Linked DNA regions of Homo sapiens. The protein of the gene in region 2 interacts with the protein of the main gene of each other region in a biochemical or structural test. Each region holds a gene or a part of one and is shown on either strand. Other genes may lie near its edges.

Region 1 (3,500 bases), on a different chromosome or scaffold from region 2:
TGCTCTGTAGCCCAGGCTGGAGTGCATGGTGCAATCATAGCTCACTGCAGCCTTTACCTCCTGTGCTCAAGGGATCCTCCCACCTCAGTGTCCTGAGTAGCTGGGACTATAGGTGTATGCCACCATACCCGGTTCATTTTTTATTTTATTTTAGTTTGTATTTTTGTAGAGATGGGGTCCTGCTATGCTGTCCAGGCTGGCTTTGAATTCCTGGCCTTAAGTGATCCTTGTGTCTCCACCTCCCAAAGTGGTATTACCAACGTCAGGCACCATGCCTGGCCTTAGAGTCCTATTTGAATTTGGGGACCCTCTTGGGACTGGGCTATTATTTAGGTCTGGAGGCACAGTCAGGTCTGGGGACCCTGGCATCCTACCCGGTCCTCGCGGCTGCCTGTCTCCTCTTCTTCAGGACCTCGTGAACTGGAGCCGTCGCTGCTGCCAGGGATTCGCATCAGGTTCTTTTGCTCGGAGAAAGAGGCTGAGGCTGACAAACAGCGACCGGTGGAGTTAAGCGATGGGCGGGGTCACAATGTGTGCAGACCAATAAGCGGGAAGAGAGAGGACTGGGAACCAATGAGGCTGATTGGGTAGGGCTGTTGGAAACCAATAAGAATCATTCCCACCGAGGAGTGTGACCCTGGGAAGGCCTAGTTAGGGCTTAAGGAGGGAACCAGAACGTGAAGGAGAGCTAAGCCCTGTGCAGAGCTGGAAATGGGACTGGAGCCAAGGCCCAAGGCCAGGTCAGGTCACTGGGCAGGCAGGGCGCGTGTGGGGCTGGGGCCTCGGGAGCCGGGGCGGGGCTCAGGCACTAACCCTTGCTGTGGCGCCAGCAGCAGAGGGCCACCCCAGTGATGACCATAAGGAGAGTTGTGGTGGCAGCGGCCACTCCGGCCACTATCCGCACAGTGGGCAGCAAGTCTGCAGGGAGCAGAGGGGACATCCTGAGAAGGCTGAGGGGGAACCAGGAAGCGGGGGCTCAGGGATTGAGTTTGGGATTCCTGGGTTCAAAAGGTCGCACATTTGAAGATTCAAAGGCCCTTGAATTTGGGGTTCCCCAAGTTTGAGAGTGAGTTTAAACTCCCTGGCTTTAGGGAGTCTTAGAATTTGAGGGGTCCTTTACTTTGCAATTTGCTTTGCAATCATTGGAGTTTCCCTTTTTGGGGCCCCTAGGTGTGAGGAGTCTCTCAGTTTAGGATTCAGAATGTGAAGGCATTTGTGGTTGAGGGGTGTCTTGGGAATCAATGAGCCCACAGTTTTGAGACTCCCGAGGTTTGGAGGTCTCCTCTGCATTTGAGGGTATGAGGTTTTGCAGCCCTCGGCTGGGGGATCCCTGCGTTTGTGGGGTTTAGACTCTCCAGATTTGGGGTCTTCGGGCTGGGGTCTCACCTCTACGGCCCAGGCTGGCCTGGGCACCTCCCTCGCCCAGCCGGTTCCGGGCACTGCAGTTAAAGCTCCTGCTAAAGTCAGACTCCTGGGTCCCCGAAATGTGTAGCACAGAGATCAGGCCCGGACCCAGTCCCCCGCGGCTCTCTGGGGCAGGGAATGTCTCCACCAGGAACCGGCCCTGCGACCCCGCCTCCAGGAAGCCCTCATCCCAAGACCAGACCTGGGGGCACAAAAGAGGGAGGACACGGAGGAGACTGAGGAGGGGAGGAAGAAGCAGGAGGGATGTCTGGGAAGTCAGAAATGGTCACAGTAGTTTCGGGGGGCCAGGTGGGAGGTCAGGGATCACGGCTGGATGGGTCACGGGAGGAGTGACATTTCCTTACCACGGCATCTGGGGCGGGAGAGGCGAAAACCAGACACTGGAGGCGAGCAGGGCCCCTCAGGAAGGCAGGCGCAGAGTGCAGGGCGGTCACTACTGGGGGAGCTGGGATGGAGACTGTAGGTCACTCAGAGGAGAGGTCTTGCCCTCCCCAAAGGCTGTAACAAAGCCGGGTCTGTCCAGCGCACTCTCCGCTAACCTCAATCAATCAGGCCACGCCGCCTCCAAACTCCGATTCTCCTAAAAGCCTCGCCTTCAATAGGTCCGGTCTCCAGCCCCCGCTGGGTGTAAAGCTCCTTCCAGGCCACTCCCACTGCATTAGCCCTTGCCCCCTCTGTCCGCTCCCTATCCCAGGACGGGCCAGGTCCCCTAGGAAGCCCCGCCTTCTCACCGTTCACAGTCAGCCGAGCCTCCGCGGCGCCGCCCCGCAGGCCCGATAGCCCAGCCTCAGCTCTGCACACATAGTCGCCTGCGTCCTCGGGCCCCACCGACGGAAGACGCAGTGTGGCTCCAGAGCCCAGCACCTGCGACAGGGAAGGGGCGTCAGAAGCCGGATTTGTAAGGAAGCCTGGTCCCCCTCCAGCCACCGCCTCAGATTTAGGGCTGTACCTGCGCGCCACCGCGGCGGGTCCAGGTTACCCGTGGAAGCGGGTTCCCGCGCCAGGCGCAGCTGAAGGAAGCGTCTTCCCCCACGTCCACGGACACGGGCTCCGGCTTTGCCTGCAGAATCGGCCCAACTGGACGAAAGAGACTAGGGGTCACATGGCCGGGGCGGAATGCAGCCACTGACCTGGGATCAGCCAGCCCCACAGAAACACCACACCCTCTAGGGCGCAAGAATATGCCCCAGCTCCACACTCTCCTCCTCCTAATACCCCACGCTCGCTCTCCCGGCCCCGCCCCTCCAGGCCCCGACCCTCAACAGCCCTGAAAGCCACGGCCACCTTTGACCACACCCACAGGCCGGCCCCAGCTCACACAGCACATCCAGCGCAGTACTGCGGTTGGCGCTACCCACGGCGTTGCTGACCTCGCAGGACACGGGCTCAGTCAGGAACGAGGCGTCTGCCACGACCTCTAACCTTGGCCCGCGGGCCCCGAGCACCGGAGAGCCCCCTTTTGCCCACCTGAGGAAATGGTGGCGCTGTTAACGTTGTCCTGGCCTCTCTGGCACACCTACTCAGGTCCCAGCCCTTCCCAAGCTCACTCTTGGGGCTGGGGAGAGGTGGGTCTTCGTCCTCACCTGTAGCCTGTGACAGGAGGCTGGGCTGTGGCCTGGCACAGGAAAATGACCTTCTCTCCCTCCTGCACAGTGTGTGGCGAAGCAGACAGAGTCACCTCTGGGGGGTCTGTGAGGGTGGGACAATGGTCAGATGGGCAAGGACCAGGAACACCTCCGTCACTGGCCTAGGTGTCCAGTCCCTGGTTCCTCCATCCCAGGAGTCTGGGCCCCTAATCCCCTTCTCCCTTTGAGCCAGGAGTCTGGGCTTTCAGTTCCCAATTTCCCCAGTTACCTCAATGTGCCAGCCTTCTGCCCTCTCCTAGTCTCCCCGATGTGAGAGTCAAGGCCCAGCTTTCTCTTTCCCCAGGGACCCCAGCTGTCTGTCCTCTCCTGCTCGGAGTCTCACTCTGCTGCTGAGTGGCATGATCTCGGCTCACCGCAACATCTGCCTCCCGGGTACAAGTGATTCTCCTGCCTCAGCCTCCCAGGTAGCTGGAATTACAAGTGTGTGCT
Region 2 (3,500 bases):
TACCTAAATCAATATCTCGAATTCCCATGTACAACTCAAGAACATCATCAATCTTTTCAATTGCCTTTGCTTTGGTTTCAGAAGGCTTTATCAAAAAAGAGAGAAATAAGATATTATACAACAAAATCTCTTGATTGTCAGGGCATACACAAGAGAAAGCCTGATGTGGAGCCGGTTCATAATTGTGTATTTCAGCTAATTTTAATGGAAATAGATCTAGAATGTGCTCTGTAACTAAATACAAATCAATACAGTAAATACTTATTTCTAGTGTCAGCACTAAGTGTTACGGATTCAAAAAAGAAAAGCCAGGAACACAATCCCCAAGTAGCTAACAATCTAGAAGAGGAAACAGATGTGAAAATAAATAACATGTAACAGTTTTTAAAGGATATAAAAGGCACAGAAGCATCACAGGGGAGGAAGCAAATTTATATCTCTAACAGTCATGGAAGACTTTAGAAAGAAGGTGACTTGGCTGAGCACAGTGGCTCACACCTGTAATCCCAGCACTTTGGAAGGCCACGGTGGGAGAGTTGCTTCAGCCTAGGAGTTCAAGACCAGCCCAGGCAACATGGTGAGACTCCATCTCTACAAAAAAAATTAATTAATTAATTAAAATAATTAGCTGGGTGTGGTAGCACATGCTTGTAATCCCAGACACTTGGGAGGCTGAAACAGGAGGATCACTTGAACCTGAGAGGTCTAGACAAGCCTGGGCAACATGGCAAGATTCTATCTCTACTAATTAATTAATTTAATTTAAAAGTAACCAGGTGTGGTGGTATGCACCTTTAGTCCCAGCCACTCAGGAGGCTAAAGTGGGAAGATCACTTGAGCCCAGGATGACGAGGCTGTAGTGAGCCATAATTCTGCCACTGCCCTCCAACCCGGCAACAGGACAAGACCCTGTCTCAGAGAAAAAGAAGGATGTCTTAAGAACTGTGGCGGGGTTTTTTTGTCTTGCTTTGTTTTGTTTTGTTTTGTTTGAGACAGAGTCTCATTCTGTTGCCCAGGCTGAAGTGCAGTGGTGTGATCTCAGCTCACTGCAACCTCTGCCTCCCAAGTAGCTGGGATTACAGGCGTGCGCCACCATGCCCAGCTAATTTTTTGTATTTTTTTAGTAGAGACGGGGTTTCACCATGTTGGCCAGGCTGGTCTCCAATTCCTGGACTCAAGTGATCCGCCCACCTCAGCCTCCTAAAGTGCTGGAATTACAGGCATGAGCCATCACGCCCAGCCAAGAACTGTGTTTTCAATGATGAAGAGGAGATAAGCAGGAGAGGACACTTCAAGTAGGATGCAATAGATAGGCAAAGTCTAAGTAAGGTCACAGAGTCATGTTAGAGGGATGCCAGAAGTCCCATGTAGCTGGAGAACACAGTGACAAATATGACTAGATCTTGAGGAGTCCTGTGTACCATGAAAAGGACTTTGGTCTTTATGGTGCAGGCCAGGGTCTCCAAACGTTTGATGGCTCATCCCAATAGTAAAACTTTTCTGAACAAATACCCTTATTGTGTATTTTTAACTTTATTGTATGTATTGCTTATCAATTACACATGTATTACCATATTAATATATTGTATAGATTATAAAAATACACCAAAAAAGGAAATTTTATAAGAATGAGATGATAAAATAATACTTTTTAAATCATTTTTGTGTTATGTATTAATGGTACCAAAACATTTTTGTTCTTCCCGAAATGATTACTAAACATTTCAGTAAAAATATTATTTTAAATTTTTGGTTTAATATTTGGTAAATTCTGCTCAGTTTATTTCAATACTTGGCTTTAAATGGCATCATAGCTGAAAATGGAATTGCCCAAAGATGTTAACTACTCAACTATACATGCAAATGTAGAATTCATTATTTAGATTATAAGAATTTCATGTTACTTTCAATACTGTTATAAATATATGTTGTTTTGTAGTCTCAAATTTTATTAAAATCATGCATTTTATAGCAAATAAAAATCTATTTCCTTGAAGATATTAATACAACTTTCTCACATTTTTATTTACAAGAACTAAACCTTAAAAACAATAACAGACAATATATTGCTCTTGCCTTCATTACAATGTATCTTGAATTGTCTGTATAAAGCAACAGGCTATGCAAATTAACAGGTATTAACCTTTATATCTATCCAGGCACGTTTTAAGTTACGGTGACAAGTGTCAGTACTCCTCATACCCAAATGGCCACCAATATTTTACCATTCTAATATTTCCTATTTGCTACGGAACAGATCTGGATCTATCACCTCTTCTCCATCCACATTCTGTTTGCCAGTGTTTAGTCCTCATCTTTTCTGATTTGCAGAGGTTTCCTATTTTGTCTCCCTGCCTTTGGTCTTCACCCTCTCAAATCCAAGCTGCTCAACAACCCATACCCTGGAACCAAGGGATTTTTCTAAAACACAAAACTGATTGTGTTACTCCCCTCATAATTCTTAAATGGCTCCCTCATTATCCACAAGGCCCTTCATATCCTAACCCCAGCCTATGCCTCTAGCCTCATCACCCCTACCTAACCAGTACTTCCAGCACCCCACACTCCAATCTCATGAACAGCTTACAGGTCCCCAAAACCCATTATTGTTCCATGCCTAGAACACTCTTCTTCCCCATTTTGAACTCACTCACTAATTTCTTCCGGAGAGAAACACTTCCTGACCCTTTTTTTTTTTTTTTTTTTGAGATGGAGTCTCACTCTGTCACCCAGGCTGGAGTGCAATGGCATAATCTCGGCTCGCTGCAACCTCCGCCTCCTGGGCTCAAGTGATTCTCCTGCCTCAGCCTCCCAAGTAGCTGGGATTACAGGTGCCCAGCACCATGCCCAGCTAATTTTTATGTTTTTAGTAGAGATGGGGTTTCATCACATTGGCCAGGCTAGTCTCGAACTCCTGACCTCAGGTAACCCACCCACATCAGTCTTCCAAAGTTCTGGGATTACAGGCGTGAGCTACTGCACCCAGCCTTCTGACCTCCTTTCTTTCCCCAATCCCTGTCAATGGCTGATCAGCCCCTTCTTTGTGACACTGTGTATCCTGCACCTGCTTCCATTAACCCTATCCCACTGGGTTGTAATAGCTTCTTTTCATGCTTCTCTCCTTTTAGAAGAGAAACAGGGTTTTTATTCTTCTTTGTATCACCAGCACTTAGACTGTGCCTGTCTCAGCAAGCACATATTGAATAAAGTATGAGGTTATGCAAGTGGAGAATTGATATGGTTTGGCTCTGTGTGCCCACCCAAATCCCATCTTGAATTGCAATCCCCACGTGTCAAGGGAGGGACCTGGTGGGAGGTGATTGCATCATGAGGTGGTTTCCCCCAGGCTGTTCTCGTGATAGTGAGGGAGTTCTCACAAGATCTCATGGTTTCAAAAGCGACAGTTTCTCCTGCACACTCACTCTCTCCTGCCACCATGTAAGACGTGCCTTGCTTCCCCTTCACCTTCTGCCATGACTGTAAGTTTCTTGAGGTCTCCC
Region 3 (3,890 bases), on a different chromosome or scaffold from region 2:
AACTATCAAGTCAGTTGATTCCAGACCACAACTCTGTTACACTCACACACACAGTCGTGTCTCTGTCTCTGTCTCCCTCTCTCTCTCTCACACACACACCCACAATTATTCTTCCTGCAAAGCTTCTCAGACTGTGCATAAAAACTAGTTTCAAATCAAAACAACTTAAGTGGATATAACCAATTACTTTGTTCCCCTGAGCCTCATTTCTTGTTTTATTTTGAAAGCTTGATCCTCCTTCCACTCTAACTTCCACAGGCCAAATTCCAGTGGTCTTCACTTGGGATCTTACCTGAGACCAAACTGAATTTATCCTCAAAAGGTAACCCCCGGATATGTCCTTGGACAGCAGAAACAGACCACGTGGGCCAAAGGAAACAAGTCTGTTTCATGATCTGATCTTGGATTCACCCCACTATTTAAAGAGACCCCACAGAAGAAGGGAAGAAAAGGGCCCCCAAAAGACCAGTTAAACAAGAGACAAATAACCAGTCAAGATATTCCTTGATAAGATCCTTAAAAAGTATCTTTAATTGATGCCAAATATGAACAGATCGTAAAGTGACAGAAGCAAGTAAAATTGCATAGATGAAAACTATGCGCATCAATTAGGTTCTCAATTCATAACATTCAATGTCCTTGACCTGACATATTACACAGTTAGAGAAGGGAGAATGCGCAGTAGGTGAAGATGAGACACGTCCTTAACTCAAGGTGGAAGCAACTGGCAAACTCAAGAAATAAAATAGCGTTTTTTCAGCTTAAATGGTTTGTTGTCCTGATGGTGCACTTTAAATTAATACTACTCAATTTTTATTTTTAACCTCAGTAATACTTTATCTTTACTATTAGAGGCATGTCACATGGAGTCCATGTTGTCTACTTACATCTGCTGCATAAACAGTCCCAAAACAGTGCGCTGAAGAGAAGAAAGGTGCTTCTGCAAGGTTTGGAGAGGAGACAACTTTGACCTGGAATATTTTACAAGAGATTTCTTGTTTTGTTTTGTTTTCTTTCCATACACCATTTCTTCTTCTTTGATTGTGGTACAAAAGTTTTCTATACTCTTTGAAGTTTCACGTCATAAAGAGTAAACTCCTAGTTAGCTCCTAAATGAAAATCACTGTGACTAGGGTTAATCTCCTTAAAGCGAAAAGCCCTGAGGTCAGCAGGGCCTCACCCCTTACATACATGCTGGACTTCCCAAGAAAGCCCAGGGTCATTTTGCCTGAGCAAAGAGGCTGGCATTTAATCCCAAGGCTTCTAAACTTTATATCTGTACCCTGAATTAGTTTGCACAGTGACCCAAGGTAATGGAACAGTTTTGGTTAACAATTCAGCTCCTGTTTGCTTCTTTACAAAAATGGTAAGTAACATACATTCTTTAAAGGTTTACCTGAGTCATACTAGACATGTTCACATATACCCTGAAATTCCATGATATAAATACAGGTAGTAATATGCCACATGGTGAATGAGAGTTCACCTCCTGAGATCACAATTCAACTTGGGTTGTGTCTGGTCTTAAAATTTTAGTTTGTTTGTCTTCTTAAAATGAACATAAACATCAAAAGACTTCATTCTTGCTTGGAAAAGCCTGAAGATAACATGCTTGTTTGGCAGTTTATATTCTTTCTAACAATTTTATACTATGGATGGTTACCACCCACCAATTCTCACCACCCCAGGAATAAGTCATTCCTGGAAGAAAATGGGAAAGTGCCTTCTGCTAATGTTCTTTCTCCTTTCTTTCAATCCAATCTACCAAACTAAGAATTAAAATGTAAAATTGTTAAAAAGCATGTGTTTTGAGGTCTCCTATATTAAATGAGAGGGCTAGGAAACTATTTTTATTGACTTTTAGATGGTACCTAATTTGAAAAACGTGTAACTATACACAATGTGAAGAAGGCCTTTTATAGGCTAAACCAAATTTCTACTTTAAAAAAATGTATTCCTCATTTACCATTTACATGTATTTTTTTAATTCTCAAGCAAATCAAGATTGTGACACCACCTGTGCTTCACGTCCACCATAGTGGAATCTAAACCTGCCCTACAATTCATTTCAGGGAAATGACTGCCCACTGGCCAGAATCCTGGAGAAGGACTTGCTATTGGTTTATCTGATTCTGCAAGGCTCACCCACGAACACACTCCCAATGAGCTGATATAACTGAAAATCAGAACTCAAGTCTCCAGGGAGTGCAAGGGGAGTTGGGCACAAATGGGAAAAGGGAGATGCAAAAACAGAAAGTTTTCCTGGCTAGAATTTGTCTTCTAGAAATCTGAGGACAGAGGAAATGAATGTCTTTGGTCTCTCTGATTCAGATCACTTCAGGTGAGTTAACCACTTCAGAGATTCTGGGATGGCTAACAGCCCTGGTGTGACCAACTCTTCTATTGCCACCCTATTGAACTAGGGCCCCAATAGACTGGAAGAGAGGAATTATAGCTATCAGCACATCAGAAGTCTTCTCCTTCTGGAGAAAACACATAGTCAGGACATGAGCTGTTACAGCTCCATGCCTAGGAAGGGGAAGAAAAGGTAAAAAGGCTGCTAAAATAAATATGAATAAGTAAACCAAAAAATAGTCATCCCTTAATAGGCAGTTTTGTTAAGTGCACCTTCAGGTCTACAAAGACATTTCAACACATTACAGTGCGAGGGTAAGAGCTTGGTCAAACATTGCATGCCTATGCTACACAGATAATCCCTGTACTCCATTCTTACTGAATTCATTGCAATGAGCTACAGATGAGCTAAGCAGCATTCACTTTCCTCACACCACCCCAAACTCATAACAACAACTCACCCCCAGTCCCAGACTGACAGGTTCACCGCATGCAGCACTTTTTTCTATATCACATGCAGAAGAATCAACCAGTCCAGAGTGTAACCACGGTAAATATACCAAATACCCAAAGTCAGTCTTGGTGCCGTTTTCTCATCCATTAACCCATCCATCCCACAGTACTGAGTGGATTATTGCTGTTGACAGAGTGCGGTGTTTCAAGTTCTGTGTGCACTAGACCTCAACGTTGAAATGAAAGATCAAGATAACCCCAAGCCTGGGAGGAGGTTGGCATTTTTTTCCTAATTGGGGATTTTTAAGCAAGTAGGAAAGGAATCGCCAGAATGAGTTAAGGTTCAGACGAGAAGGAGACATCACATGGGAGGGTTTAATGCCCTGTAGTCGGATGCTGCGCAGTTCTTGGCCCCTCATCTTCCACGATGTGTGTTGTGTTCATCTCACAGATTCACAAAAGTCACATAGGAAAATAAGATATCCATGTTCTTTCTTTTAATCGAGTTAGCCAGAATGGGTGTAACTCGAGTTTCTAGGGTGATTGCCTCACTGCTAGTTCTAGGACAGGATGGGGGAAAGGGGTGGGAGAAGCAGGACAGATTTTCAGAAGAAGCTGGGCCAGAATGTCAGGTAACAGGCAGCCACATGCTAAGTGCAGAATGAAGATTCCCCACCTCAGGGTCCTTTGAAAGGCTGTGAGTACCTCTCCACCGGTGGGCAGCTGCCGAGCTCCAGAGGCCTGTGTTCCGTGGCTCTCTTTCAGCCAGGAACAGGGTCCCCACCATTCTCTGGGCTGGGTAACGGGGGGGCAGCAGAAGTTAGATGTTCAACCTGTGAAGTGACTGCCAGGTGGGAAGATCATAGGGGCATCAGGAAATATCTGAAAGGGGTAGACCAGGAGGGAAGGCCTAGGAAAGGTTATTATGAACTGAGTGTTCCCACATCCACAACAATGCCTGAAAAGACTGGACCGTCAGAGAGATTTGCAAAGTGCTGTTACCGACAGAGAAAAAAATAAGGAAAGGTGCCAGGAGCACTACACTGGACCTGAGGAAGCCTTGTGTGTCCAAAGTGGCCCTC
Region 4 (3,500 bases), on a different chromosome or scaffold from region 2:
GTAATTCCAGCACTTTGGGAGGCCAAGGCGAGAGGATCACTGGAGCCTAGCCTGGGTAATATGAGATCTTGTCTCTACAAATAACAAAAAAAAAATTAGCTGAGTGTGGTGGCACATGCCTGTGGTCCCAGCTACTCAGGAGGCTGGGGTGGGAGGATTGCTCAAGCCCAGGCAGTGAAGGCTGCAGTGAGTCATGATCACACCACTGTACTCCAGCCTCGGTGACAGAGTGAGACTTTGTCTCAAAAGAAAAAAAAAAGAATTCTCCAATTATAATTGTGAAATTGTGGATTTGTCATTTTCTTTTTGTAGTTCTGTTTTTGCCTTGTGTGTTTTGATGCTGTTATTAGGTGCATACATATTTAGGATTGCTACATCATCTTGATGAATTGAGCCCTTTATTGTATTGAAAAGACCCTCTTTATCTCTAGTAATATTTTTTGCTCCAAAACATACTTTGTCTGATATTAATATAGCCACTCCATCTTTCTTTTGATTAGTGGTAGCAAGATGTGTCTTTTCCCACTCTTTTATTTTGAACCTATTTGAGTCTTTTCATTTAAAGTTGGATTCTTGTTGGCAGCCTACTGTTGGACCTTACTTTTTGTTCTTATTTGACAATCTTTGCTTCTTAGTTGAAGTGCTTAGACCATTTACTTTCAATCTGATTATTGATATGGTTAGATTTAAATCTACCATTGTACCATCAATTCTTTTCCTCTCTTTTCTCCTTTTCTGCCTTCTTTTGGACTTAGTATTTATTATTATTACTCCATTTCTTTTTCCTCTTGCCCTTCTCCTCCTCCTCCATCCTTGCTAATTGGGTGTAATTCTTTTTTTTGTTTTGTTACTCCAGTGGTTGGTTCAGGGTTTATGGTATACATCTTTAATTCATCAATCTGTCTTCAGGTGACATTACACTGATTCATGGATAGCCTAAGAACCTTCCATTTCTCTCCTCCTGAACTTTATGCCATTGCTGTCATATATTTTATTTAAATCAAAGTTATAAATCTCACAATACATGATTATTATTTTTTACAGAATTTAGACATTGAGAAAAATTCTATATATTTACTTGCATAGTTAAAATTTCTGATCTCCTCCATTCCTTTGCATAGGTCCATATTGGCTTCTGATAGGCTTTCCTAAACATTACTTATAGTTTGGGTGTGTGGGTGATATTTCCTTTCACCTTTTGTATGTTTGAAAAAGTTTTTATTATGCCTTAAAAAGCCAGCATTATTGAGATATAATTCACATGCCACACAATTCACCCATTTAAAGTATACATCAATATTTTTTAGTACATTCCTAGAATTTTGCAACCATCACTATACTCAATTATGGAACGTTGTTGTCACCACAAAAATAAACCCCCTACCCATTAGCAGTCACTCCCTATTTCCTCCAACCCCCTTAGCCTTAAGGAATCACTAATATGTTTTCTGTCTCTAGATTTGCTTGTTCTGCACATTTAGTGTAAATGGCATCATATAATATGTGAGATTTTGTGACTGGCTTCTCTCACAGCAGAATGTTTTTAAGGTTCATTCATATAGTGGTATGTTTTAGCACTTCACTCTTTTATGTACAAATAATATTCTATCACATGGGTATACCACATTCTAGCCATTCATCAGCTGATGGACATTATTTCATCTTTTGGCTATTATGAATAATGCTGTTATGAATCTTCATGTAAAAATCTGTGTGTGAACATGTGCGGTATAAATTTAGGAGTGGAACTGTGTAGTCATATGGTAACTCTACGTTTAACATTTTGAGAAACTGCTAGACTAGTTTCCAACGTGGCTGCTTCATTTTACATTCCAATCAGCAGTAGTATATAAAGGTTCCAATTTCTGCATGTCCTCACTGACACTTTTTTTTTTTTTTTCTGAGAGAGGGTCTCATTCTGTTGCCCAGTCTGGAGTGCAGTGGTGCAGTCATAGCTCACTGCAACCCCGGACTCCTCAAGCCATCCTCCCACTTCAACCTCCCAAATGTCTGGGGTTACAAGTGTGTGCTATCACGTCTGACTGCCTTTTTGATGATAGCCATTCTGGTGGGTGTGAGTGGTATGTGATTGTGGTTTGATTTGCATTTCCCTGATGGTTAATGATGTTGATTGTCTTTCATGTGCTTATTGATCATTTATATATATTTTTGTAGAAATGACTATTCATATCCTTTGCCCATTTTTAATTGCTTTATTTTTCCCTTTATTATGGAGTTGTAAGAATTCTTTATGTAACCTGGGTACAAGTCTTTTATCAGATATACAACTTGCATATATTTTCTTTCATTCAGTGGGTTGTCTTTTCACTCTCTTGATGCTATCCTTTGAAGTACAGAAGTTTTAAAATTTGACGTGTCTAATTTATCTATTTTTCTTTTGTTTCTTGGGTTTTTGGTGTCATGTATAAGAAGGCTTTTTCTCACACAAGGGCACAAAGATTTTCTCCTGTATTTTTCTAAAAGTTTTATTTATTTATTTTTTGAGACAGAGGCTTGCTTTGTTGCCCAGACTGGAGTGCAGTGGCGCAATCTCAGCTCACTGCAACCTCGGCCTCCCAGGTTCAAGCTATTCTTGTGCCTCAGCCTCCCGAATAGCTGGGTAATCTAAGAGTTTTATAATTTAGCTCTACATGTAGGTCTTTGATGCTTTTTTTTTTTTTTTTTGAGACAGAGTCTTGCCTTGTTGCCCAGGCTGGAGTGCAGTGGTATGATCTCCGCTCACTGCAAGCTCCGCCTCCTGGGTTCACGCCATTCTCCTGCCTCAGCCTCCCCAGTGGCTGGGACTACAGGTGCCCGCTACCTCGCCCGGCTAATTTTTTGTACTTTTAGTAGAGACGCGGTTTCAGTGTGTTAGCTAGGATGGTCTCGATCTCCTGACCTCGTGATCTGCCTGCCACGGCCTCCCAAAGTGCTGGGATTACAGGCGTGAGCCACGGCGCCCGGCCTGTGATCCATTTTGAGTTAATTTTCGTGTATGAGGTGAGAAGGGTCCGACTTTATTCTTTGGCAAGTGTATATCCAGTTGTCGCAGTACCATTTGTTGAAAAGAGTATTCTTTCTCTGGTGAATTGTCTTGGTACCTTTGTAGAAAATCAATTTATCATAAGTGTGAGGGTGTATTCCTGGACTCTGAATTCTATTCCACTGGTCTATTTATCTAACCTTATGCCAGTACCATGCTATCTTGATTACTGTTGCCATGTTGTAAGTTGTAAGATTGGGATGTGTGAGTCCTACAACTTTGTTCTTTTTTTTTTTTTTTTATTTTTGAGACGGAGTTTCATTCTTGTTGCCCAGGCTGGAGTGCAATGGCGCGATCTCGGCTCACCGCAACCTCCGCCTCCCGGGTTCAAGCGATTCTCCTGCCTCCTGCCTTGGGAAGCCTCTCCTGAGGCTTCCCAAGTAGCTGGGATTACAGGCATGCGCCACCACGCCCGGGTAATTTTGTATTTTTAGTAGAGACGGGGTTTCTCCATGTT
Region 5 (3,500 bases), on a different chromosome or scaffold from region 2:
TCCTGGACGCCCTCGGCTCCCCCTCTGGGTTTCCAGGGCCTTGGGCCTCAGAGAGGATTACAGACCCCGGTGTGGCCCCAGCTCCGGCCTACCTCCCCGGGACCAGCAAGCGGGCAGCTCTCAGCGGAGCCTGTGGAGGGCCTGCGCCCACCCCGGCCCACCCCCGCCCGCCCCCCACTCACCCGTACTTGGAGTGGGGGCATTTGATGTGCTCGCACTCCTTGAGGTGGGCCTCCAGGTTCATCCTGAGCAGCGGGGGGCAGCTGGGGTTGTTGGGACACCGCACAGGCCTGTAGTCACAGCTGCCCTCGTGGTCCCTGTGCCAGGGCGGGATGCGGGGAGGCCTCAGCCAGAGCCCTGAGAAGCAGCCCCCAGGGAGGCAGAGGTGCCCAGGGAGGGGCACTTACTTCCGGGCGCTGAGCTTGATGGTGAAGGGGCACCCTCGGGGGTCCACCTCAAAGATGGGGGGCTTCCCGCTGCCCGCTACCCGGCAGCCGTGCCGGCAGTGGATGAAGAGCTCCCCGATCTGCTCGGCCACCGCGATGTTGTTCACCACCACGGTCAGTTTGACGTTGTCCACGGGACACTTCTCTGGGAGAGGAGGGCGTGCTGACCCTCACGGCCTGCCTGGCACACGCTCCCTCACCCGGGTGGGCATGAGCCTCTAATGGGGGCCAGATCTGTCCATCTGCGCCTCTGAGGCACGCAACATGGGAACGGGGGCACAGGTGGGCCACCAAGAAGGAGCAGCAGGTGCTGAGGGAGTGTCACCTGTGACACTCAGCTGTGCCCGGAAAAGTGTGGGGTGGGGCCAAGAGGGCAGAGGGCAGAGTGCGGAGAGGCAGGCAGGAGCGGGCGCCGTGCGGGAGGACGACAGCCTCGCCAGTGAGAAAGGCCTCCCCAGAGGGTGCCAACCCTGGCATGGGGAGCCTCGGCCCACACCCACTGTGGGGTCTCTGAGTCTGGACACACTGGAATTTGGGGTGTCCCCACTCTGCTCATGGAGGTCCCGAGCCTCAGCCTGAGCGTCCCTAGGACGGCTGCAGCCCCATCCCAACCCCAGCAGAGGCCAAACAGGGCCGGACGCTGTGCAGGGGACAAGGGAGAAGCCGCCCGCCTCTGCTCGGCAGCCATGGGCACGGTCGGCGTCAGGCCTGGGCCGGGGCACAAACCTACCTGACTTCAAGGCGCATCTCCTACAGAACGTGTGCTGTGGAGGCAAAGGGCGGGCTTGAGGGTGGCGCAGGGTCCTCTTTTTCCCTAGTCCATGGCCATGGCAGCCACAGGCCTCGCTGTACCCCAAGCCCAGTGCAGCCAGGACAGGCCTTGACCAAGGCCAGGGCGCCACAGCCCCGGCCCCCGAGAGCCCTGGGGTCCTGTGGGGGCCTCTGGCAGCAGGGGGGCTGGGAAGGGCGGCGGGCTCACCCCACACGTGGTGATCACGGGGTCTTTGAAGACGCTGCAGCAGAGCTGACAGCACAGCTTCACCGAGGGCTGCTCCGCAAACACCAGTGGCTCCTGGAACCAAGCGGGAAAGGCAGGCGATGGCGGGAGGCCACCCTCAGCCCCGCCACCACCCAGGCACCCAGGCGCTCTTGCTCCAGGCCTGGCTGTCCTCTGAGGACAGGGTCACGTCCTGAGAGAGGCCTGCTTAGAGCTGGGGGGCTTGATCGGGGCCCAGGAGGGAGAGCGAGGTCTGTGGCCCCAGAGGCAGGGCCCAACCCCGGAGGATGAGTTCAGCCGCCCAGCCTTGGCCGCCCTCGCCCGCCTCCTTCCTGGGGTGAGACTAGAAAGGGCCCTGCTGGAGCCCTGTGCTTCCCGCTGCCAGTTCCCGGGCAGCCCTGAGAAGGGGGAGTGGGGGAACATGCCCAGGGGACCCGGCCTGGTCCCTCGAGTCCCCACCACGGACCAGCAAGCACTGCAGTTCCCGTCAGGCCCCAGCCGCCCTCTCCCTGTGAGCTGGGCGGGCATGGCGGAGGGGAAGGTGCCTCCGTGCCACGGCTGCGGTGACAGCCCTGGAAGCCGCTCTGCGCCGAGTCCCCCACACCTACCGGCTCCTCCTCCTCCTCGGGCAGTGAGAATGTGGAGCGCAGAGACATGCTGGACTCTGAGTGCAGGGAGCGGACAGAGATGGCGGAGTCGGAGCGGCGGGGAGTGCTGATGGGGGGCTGTGTGGAGGGAGAGGCGCCTGTCGGGGGGCTCCGCACGGGGTCAGAGCCTCGGGGAGGACAGGACCCAGCCCGGCGGAAGCGCGAGGGCAGCAGCACCCCTGGGGCCACCCCGGTCCCTGCGGGTACTCTCCTCGTCCACGGGGGCCGTGGGTGGGCGTGGGGAGCTGATGCAACCCAGGTCCCTGCCTGCCCGCCTGGGCGGCCTGGGCCGGGGTGCTGGGCTGCCCGCTCACGCCTGCCACCTCTCTTTGTGTAAATGGAGAGACTTCCTGCTATTCAATTCCATATACCCGGGCTGCTTCCTGCTTCCCGTGGGGGAATGTGGGCCGTGAGGGGGCACCTCCACCAGCCAATCCTGGACAGCCGAGGCCGTGACCGCAGGATGGAAGGGCCAGGAATGCTGGCAGGGAGCGACGGCTGGGCTCCAGGTGCCCCCCGGGCCTGGCTGCTTGTCTGGCCTTGCTGGTGGGGGACACCAGGCCCAGCTGGGAGGCTCAGAGGGAAGGCAGGGCCAGGCCCCCAGAGAACCTCGGCTGAGCTTCCCGAGGGCAGGAGTGAGGGCCACAGGTGCCTGCCTCTGGCTGAGCCACCGACAAGGGAGCCTGGGGGAGGGGCAGACACTGTCCCTTCCTCCCCTCTGGCCTGGAAACCTCCAGAAGTTTCCAAGAGCCACACTGCCCAAGGCTTCTCTCCTGGTGCTTTGACTGCAGAGGGGCCCAGCTGCTGCTCTGCCGAGCCTCTGGCCCCCTTCCCGGCAGCCTGGGTATGAAACCCACAGAGCACAGAGGCAAACCAGTCCCAAGGCCGGCGGGGGGCATTGTGTGCCATGTACCCACCTCCCTTTGGGTCCCAAGGGCCCGTCTGCATGGAAGCAGCACATGGGGAACAGAAGGGAGTCAGAGAAAGTGAGTCACAAGGCCCCACAGCAGCAGAGGGAGCCCCAGGGGCGAGAGCAGAGCAGGAGCTGGCACGGGAACCACTCTCCCGGGCCTGCCCAATACTACCCCAGAGTCTCCCACCCTCTTGGGCGTAGGGGCTGACAGCAGGCAGGCCTGGGGGACGGGGGAAGGGCAGGAGGGGGACTCCCTGTGTGGGCCTATCAGCAAACAGAGAAGGTACCCGCCTCTCTTGAAAGCCACCGTGACCCATGGGGATAGCAGGTGATTATGGGAACCACAGACATGGAGGACTCGTGGCTTCGGGTTGTGGAGACCGAGGCAGGCAGAGGCCCAGGGGACGGGGCCCAGACATACCCAACTCGCCCTCGGCCTAGCACAGCGCCCGGCACACAGGTGTGTTTGTTCAATTAATTAAAAACTTCTTTTCTGG
Region 6 (3,500 bases), on a different chromosome or scaffold from region 2:
GTGGGAATTTAAGATGAGATTTGGGTGGGGACACAGCCAAACATTATCAGGCCCTTTCCTTAGTCTTTCTTGCCTTCCTTTAACCTGTGCTTTGCTTTCCCTCCCCATCCCTTTCACTGCAAACTCTTTCTTTCTGAAACAGTTTGATCACAGATCTGATCCTTACGTGGCCAGCTCCTTGCCTGGGTGAGCAGCTGCTGCAACCTTAATGAGCCCCAGGCCCACCCTGACAGGACCTGTCTGGCTCTCAGCCCCCAAGGGAAGACCCAGATCCCATGACCCCATCAGTGCTCAGAAATCAGACCCCCAAGCTGGAGGCAGTAAAGGCACCAGAGACTCACTCAAAGTCAGTGAAAGGAAAACAAGGAGGGACTTGGGAGGCTGTGTGGAGTTTTGTGAGCTGGTTTTGCAGGTATCTAAGTCTGCCAGCAATGTCCCTTTCACATGTGTCCTGGGGCCCTTGGCTAGGACTAGGACAGCCTCTTGAAGGAACTAAACCAGAACAAACAAGACAGTAGAATCTCTTCCCCTTCCCACCCCTCTCCTCACAACTCCCAATATGGACACACATCCCCTGCACTCAGGGTGCCCTCCTTCTCCCCAAGCACCTGTCTGCCTTGCTCTTAGTGTGCACCCTTTTCAGTCAGTTCAAGCATCTCTGCCTCTTTGAAACTATATTCTCCACATCATCTTATAGATTCTTTTTTCGAGACAGAGTCTTGCTCTGTCGCCCAGGCTGGAGTGCAATGTCACATTCCCGGCACACTGCAACCTCCACCTCCCAGGTTCAAGCGATTTTCCTGCTTCAACCTCCCCCGTAGCTGGGATTATAGGTGTGCACCACCATACCCAACTCATTTTTGAATTTTTAGTAGAGACCAGGTTTTGCCATGTTGGCCATGGCTGGTCTCGAACTCCTGAGCTAAAGTGATCCGCCCACCTTAACCTCCCAAATCATGCCTGGGATTACAGGCATGAGCCACCATGCCTGGCCAGATTCTTTAATGTAACATCTGTGGCCCACCCGTGTTCATAACAGCATTATTTGCAGTGAGCAGTAGGTGGAAGCAGCCCAAGTGTCCATTGACTGAGGAATGGAAAAACAAAATGTGATACGCACGCATAATGGAATATTATCCAGACTTAAAAAGAAGGTGATTCTGACACATGCTGACATGTGTGATTCTGACATGGATGAGCCCTGAGGACATTATGCTGAGTGAATTAGGCCAGACACCTAAGGACGGTGCTATAAGGTTCCACTTACATGTGGGTACCTGGAGTAGTTAGTCATGGAGACAGAAAGTAGGATGGTGGGCGGCAGGGGTAGGGGAATGGGCATTAGTGTTTAATGGGTACAGAGTTTCAGTTTTACAAGATAAATGGAGTTTTAGAGATGGATGATGGTGACGGTTGCCCAACAACATGAATGTATTTAATATAATTGAACTGAACATTTTCAAGTGATTACAATGATCAATTTTATGTTACTTTACCACAATTTGAAAAGTACATAAAGTACCTTTTGTGTATTTTACCACAATTTTTTTTTAAAGAAGATAGCACGATGGCATGATTTATAATTCTGGGTCAGCATCTCACAGTACCCTGAGCCTCTTAAAGTCAGGGAGCATTTTATATTCGTCTCTGTACCCCCAGAAAATGGCATGCTGCAGGGCACATGGTGGGTGCCTGTGAGAGTGAGGGATATGCACATACAAAGAAATCGGTAACAAAACACACACGACAGCTCCCGCAACAGCCCGTTCTCTGGGTGTCAGTGTTAGATACTTTCGGAACTGCTCTTTTCAGCTCTTCCCACCACAGACCCATTTAATGGGCTATAGTCACAATTGAATGAATGATACCCTTGTGCCATGAAAAATAAATATACAGCTTCATGCCCAGAAGATACCCAGGGAACCAGCAAAAGCTGATTCCTCATTATCTACCCAGCATCCTTGTGAGTGTGAAGAAGGTGGAGACCACTCTGCAGGCAGCATCAGCTGTAGCTCTTGCTGAAAGCAAGGTTTCTCAGATTCTGTTCCTGATGGGGCCAGGGGGATGTTTGCTTACTCTCAGACAATGTGTTATTAGGTCCTACCTGATCAACATCATTCTGTTAGTTTGGCCACGTTGTAAATTTCTCTTGTAGCCATAAAATATGAATTATCTACAAACCTCTGTTGTACACATTAGAAAACAACCTATATCCCCACATTGATATCGTTCCATCTTAAAACCCCCCCAAATCATAGGATTACCTGAGATCTGAAATGTGGGAGGGTAAATTGAATTTGAAGACTGAATTATAGCTACAACCACTTGGCTTTTGAGACAGAGTCTCGCTGTGTCATCTAGGCTGGAGTGCAGTGGCGCAATCTTGGCTCATTCTGCCTCTCAGGTTCAAGCGATTCTCCTGCCTCAGCCTCCCGAGTAGCTGCAATTACAGGCACCCGCTGCCATGCCTGGCTAATTTTTGTATATTTAGTGGATCCGGGGTTTCACCATGTTGGTCAGGCTGGTCTTGAACCCCGACCTCAAGCAATCCACCTGCCTCGACCTCCCAAAGTGCTGGGATTACAGGCATGAGCCACTGCGCTGAGCCCCACTTGGCTTTTGATTTGTGTCCTGGTTCACTCACAGTGTCACCTTTAGCTTCATTTGTGTATTCAGGCAACATCGTGGTGAGTTGGTTCCACTTTTTGTGTGTATATTCAGGGTTCGTCTCCTCCACACCTGCCTGCAGCCCCAGGATCTCAGGCAGTCCCTTTGCTGTTGGAGCTGATGGAGAGGGGCATTGTTTCCAGTGGAGATGTAGGAATGTGTCCACACAGCAGAAACAGGGCTTCATTCTCTTTCAATTGCTTCATCTGCTCAGATTTCCTGGACATTATAACAAATAGGAAAAAGTAATAGGCGCTAAGTAGGTTTCTAATTCACAGAAGAAATAGCAAGTAAAAAAGAATGAACCAAAATGAGGTATATACCACCCTAGCCTTCCTGGTTAGATTCCAAACACTGGCTGCATTTTTCATTTAGATGGTTTTGTGGTTGATTTAATCATTTTAGAGAGTACTGGGCCATTTTAAAGCATTTTTCAGCTCTAGAGGTAGATTGATTTTGGTTTGTTATTTTTTTTTCCTTGCTCAAAGCTATTACTTGGATAATACCTTTTTACAGATGTGTACTAGACCTTGCTATAGTGTGCAAAAATATTAGTTTCTTATATTCTCTCCTTTTTTACATTAATGTTTGCTGAGAAACCCCTCCTCTCACAGCCAGATTGTCCCACTTGCCCTGCCTGCTTGCTCATCTCAGGGGCTGGGATCAGCATCACCTGCCTCTGCTTGGAAACATGTTAGAAATGCAGACTGTCAGGCCCACCCCACCCTTTTGATTAAAATTGCACTGGGACAAGAACCACCCCCACTCCTGCCCCTGCATTAAAGCCGTTGCTCTCCGGTAAGCAATTTTGGATGACTAATAATCTGTGATTT
Region 7 (3,500 bases), on a different chromosome or scaffold from region 2:
TGGTGATTTTTAATAAGTCATTTCTCCTCTTTGACCACCACGTTTGGTTATTGCTGCCAGACCAAATCACTGGGTCTTTCTGGTGACTCCTCAGGGATGGGTCCTATCACTGTGTCAGTTCCCTCCACTTCTTGTCCCACCAAAACCCTGCTTCCTCCTCTACCCATATAACTGAGGTCCCAGCCTTGCTGCTGAGCCCACCTGAGTTATATAACTAATTCGTAAAATTTCATACTGAAGGCATAATCATTCAGGTATCTAGAAAATGCACTGGTCACCAATACTCAGAGATCATCTAATTTAACATACTTGTTTTGCAGAAGAGAGAAAGAAAACTCCGGGAGGGGAAATGACTTATTCAAAATCACAGAGCAAGTTGGTAAGGAAGCCAGACATGGAGGCAAGCATCTCTGCCTCTCAGAGGGTTTTCTGTCATGCTACACCCTCTGCACTAGCTCTAGTTTGCCTCCAAATGCTGTTTTTTTTCTTCACTTACAGCCAATCTAAAAAGGGCCCTCAGGATCGCCCACAATGCCCAGCTTAGCTTCTTGACAAACACCTTAATGGCGCAGCATTGCCTGTTGGCTGCCATCGGCTCTTGAGTGGGTGGTAAGTGCACTAGCGGGAATTCCCTGGCGCTCTGCAGAATGTCCTTGGCCCACTCCCAGGAGGCCACCACAAGCCAGATGATCACCATACCCGGGGAGGTGGCACATTTGGGGTTTTGGGTCAGCACTGGGATGTCCAAGTTTTGCAGTTCTGGGGAGGCCTCTGCCCACAGTCAGGAGTGTGGCCATGGTCTCATTCACTCTCTGGAAAAGGAGAGGCCTTAGTCTTCCTCACCCTGTCCAAGGCCCTCCCGCAGATCTGCTAATTTTCTGTCCCCTGAGGCTCGACTTCTTGGTGAGTTAAGAAAAGGGAAAAGTGAAGACAAAGACCAGTGGCCAGGCCTCAGGGTTTTTAAAATTTAAATTAAAAAAAATTTTTTTTTGAGACATAGTCTTGCTCTTGTCACCCAGGCTGGAGTGCAATGGCGTGATTTTGGCTCACTGCAACCTCCGCCTCTCGGGTTCAAGTGATTCTCCTGCCTCAGCCTCCTAAGTAGCTGGGATTACAGGTGCCCACCACCACGCTCAGCTAATTCTTTGTATTTTTTAGTAAAGACAGGGTTTCACCCTATTGGCCAGGCTGATCTCGAACTTCTGACCTCAGGTGATCCACCCACCTCAGCCTCCCAAAGTGCTGGGATTACAAGTGTGAGCCACTGCACCTGGCCTAATTTTTTTAAGACAGGGTTTCACTCTATGGCCCAGGCTGCAGTGCAGTGGTACAATCTCTGCTCTCTGTAGCCTCAACTTCTTGGGCTCAAGCAATCCTCCTGCCTCAGTCTCCCAAGTAGCTGTGACTGTAGGTGTATGCCACCATACACAGCTAATCTTTGTATTTTTTGTAGAGATAGGGTTTCGCCATGTTGCCCAGGCTGGTCTCAAACTCCTGGGCTCAAGTGATCCTCCCAGCTTGGCCTCCCAAAGTGCTAGGGTTACAGATGTGAGCCCCACAGCCAGACCAAGTCTCAGTTTCTTAACTGCAACAGGGAGATGGTTGAACTAAATAACCTGTAAGTCATGTTAAAAAGTTCCATTATTTTAGCCTAAGTGGATTGACTGTGAAGCCGATCTTCTGGTTCCTCATTGCCAGTCTTAAAGTCCAGATTCTTTAGCATGACACAACAACCCTTACAATGTGATGCCAATGCACCTTTCCAGCCCTGTTTTCTTTTGTAGAGATGGGGTTCTGCTCTGTCGCTCAGGCTGGAGTGCAGTGGCACAATCATAGCTCACTATGACCTCAAACTCTTGGTCTCAAGCAATCCTCCAGCCTCAGCCTCCTGAGAAGCTGGGATTACAGGCATGAGCCACCATGCCTGGTTCTGCCAGCCTCATGTTCTGTCCTGTACCTTCTACCCTTTATTGCTCACCTCAAGTACCCCAACCTCTAGCTATACTGACCTAATTGTGTTGCCTGAGCATATCCTGCAGAGTCCTGCCTCTGTGCCTTTATTTCATTCCCTCTCCCTAGAACTCCTTTCCCATATGTACTCTGGCCTCCCCATGGTGCGCTACTTCAAAATGCAACTTGAATGCCACTTCATCAGGGAGGGCTATCTGTCTGGGGTTAAATGGACTTTCTATGTGCTCCCAATGGCATTATATGTATCCTCATTTATAGCATATTTTGTATTACATTATAAATAATGGTTTACATGCCTGTAGTCCCCTTTGAACTCATCCTCATGGAAGTTACAGCCGGTGGGAGAGATAGACATGGAAATACTAAACATTTCATTACAGTGGTGATAAGTGGAATGAAAGAGAAGAACCAGGAGCTACAAAAGTGTGTGGCAGGAGATATAGGCTGTGATATCAGGGATGGCCTCCCTGAGTACATGACATCTCAGCTGACATCTGTGAATGAACAGAAGAGGCTAGGTGAAGGCTGAGAATGAGACTCCAGGAAAGAGTACCTTACTGAATTCCTGAATGGGAAGGAGCCTGTATATTAGAAAAAGAGAGGGAAGGGCAGGGTGACTGGAGTCTAGTGACCAATGGGGAGAATGGGTGGTATAAAAGGAAGTCAGAGAGATGGGAAGGACTCAGTCATGCAGGGCCTCATCGGCTTCATTAAGCATGTTTTTGTTTTTGTTTTAGACAGGGTTTTGCGCTGTGGCCCAGGCTTGAGTGCAGTGGTGTGATCTCTGTCCACTGTAGCCTCAGCTTCCTGGGCTCAAGCAATCCTCCTGCCTCAGCCTCCCAAGTAGCTGTGACTACAGGCACATGCCACCACACCCAGCTACTCTTTGTATTTTTTTGTAGAGATGGGGTTTTGCCATGTTGCACAGGCTGGTCTCAAACTCCCGGACTCAAGTGATCCTTGTGGGTGCTGCGTCCAAGGGAGTTTATAATATTGTTCTTTCCATTTTCATATGCATTTGAAAGTTTTCCATAATAAAACTAAAAGGAAGAAGTGATAGTAGTACAGTAATAATAGTATAATCTTTGTCCTAAGAGTCATTTTAAGCCAGGTGAGGGTGGGAGTAAGGTGATCAGATTTTGGTTTGTTTTTAATTTTTTTTATTATTCAATATTTCAGTCATTCAGAAAGGCATAAAATAACAATATATATTGGAAAATCACCAGCCAGCTTTGTCAAACATTAGTTTTTGCCATATAGGCTTCAGATATAACTGACTCCTGAGTGGACTGATTGATTGATTCATTGATTGATTTTTGATACAGAGTCTTGCTTTGGCTGGAGTACAGTAGTTCAATCCTGGCTCACTGTAACCTCCGCCTCCCAGGTTCAAGTGATTCTTGTGCCTCAGCCACCCAAGTAGCTGGAACTACAGGCATGTACCACCATGCATAGCTAATTTTTTTGTATTTTTAATAGAGATAGGGTTTCACCATGTTGGCCAGGCTGGTCTCGAACTCCTGGCCTCA

The links.
Region 1: the proteins of GIPC2 (region 2) and KIRREL2 interact in a test that uses a peptide from one of them, tested with the Homo sapiens proteins (one large-scale study listed by IntAct).
Region 3: the proteins of GIPC2 (region 2) and KCNA1 interact in a test that uses a peptide from one of them, tested with the Homo sapiens proteins (one large-scale study listed by IntAct).
Region 4: the proteins of GIPC2 (region 2) and RAMP3 interact in a test that uses a peptide from one of them, tested with the Homo sapiens proteins (one large-scale study listed by IntAct).
Region 5: the proteins of GIPC2 (region 2) and TRAF7 interact in a test that uses a peptide from one of them, tested with the Homo sapiens proteins (one large-scale study listed by IntAct).
Region 6: the proteins of GIPC2 (region 2) and ABCC4 interact in a test that uses a peptide from one of them, tested with the Homo sapiens proteins (one large-scale study listed by IntAct).
Region 7: the proteins of GIPC2 (region 2) and MMP24 interact in a test that uses a peptide from one of them, tested with the Homo sapiens proteins (one large-scale study listed by IntAct).

What each region holds. Positions count from the first base shown.
Region 1 is NC_000019.10:35,859,911-35,863,410, reverse strand, and holds part of KIRREL2 (kin of IRRE-like protein 2 isoform c precursor), read right to left. Parts: intron 3,115-3,500; coding exon 3,009-3,114; intron 2,893-3,008; coding exon 2,744-2,892; intron 2,503-2,743; coding exon 2,375-2,502; intron 2,290-2,374; coding exon 2,157-2,289; intron 1,871-2,156; coding exon 1,770-1,870; intron 1,607-1,769; coding exon 1,387-1,606; intron 919-1,386; coding exon 814-918; intron 497-813; exon of another isoform or gene 485-496; coding exon 375-484; intron 1-374. UniProt on the Homo sapiens protein: May regulate basal insulin secretion.
Region 2 is NC_000001.11:78,122,466-78,125,965, reverse strand, and holds part of GIPC2 (PDZ domain-containing protein GIPC2), read right to left. Parts: intron 86-3,500; coding exon 4-85; intron 1-3.
Region 3 is NC_000012.12:4,914,867-4,918,756, reverse strand, and holds the end of KCNA1 (potassium voltage-gated channel subfamily A member 1), read right to left. Parts: 3' UTR 501-3,890; downstream 1-500. UniProt on the Homo sapiens protein: Voltage-gated potassium channel that mediates transmembrane potassium transport in excitable membranes, primarily in the brain and the central nervous system, but also in the kidney.
Region 4 is NC_000007.14:45,164,291-45,167,790, forward strand, and holds part of RAMP3 (receptor activity-modifying protein 3 precursor), read left to right. Parts: intron 1-3,500. UniProt on the Homo sapiens protein: Accessory protein that interacts with and modulates the function of G-protein coupled receptors including calcitonin gene-related peptide type 1 receptor (CALCRL), calcitonin receptor (CALCR) and G-protein coupled estrogen receptor 1 (GPER1).
Region 5 is NC_000016.10:2,169,282-2,172,781, reverse strand, and holds part of TRAF7 (E3 ubiquitin-protein ligase TRAF7), read right to left. Parts: intron 2,169-3,500; coding exon 2,052-2,168; intron 1,519-2,051; coding exon 1,426-1,518; intron 1,211-1,425; coding exon 1,177-1,210; intron 592-1,176; coding exon 408-591; intron 318-407; coding exon 183-317; intron 1-182. UniProt on the Homo sapiens protein: E3 ubiquitin and SUMO-protein ligase that plays a role in different biological processes such as innate immunity, inflammation or apoptosis. Potentiates MAP3K3-mediated activation of JUN/AP1 and DDIT3 transcriptional regulators.
Region 6 is NC_000013.11:95,067,452-95,070,951, reverse strand, and holds part of ABCC4 (ATP-binding cassette sub-family C member 4), read left to right. Parts: intron 1-3,500. UniProt on the Homo sapiens protein: ATP-dependent transporter of the ATP-binding cassette (ABC) family that actively extrudes physiological compounds and xenobiotics from cells.
Region 7 is NC_000020.11:35,233,190-35,236,689, reverse strand, and holds part of MMP24 (matrix metalloproteinase-24 preproprotein), read right to left. Parts: intron 610-3,500; exon of another isoform or gene 499-609; intron 1-498. UniProt on the Homo sapiens protein: Metalloprotease that mediates cleavage of N-cadherin (CDH2) and acts as a regulator of neuro-immune interactions and neural stem cell quiescence.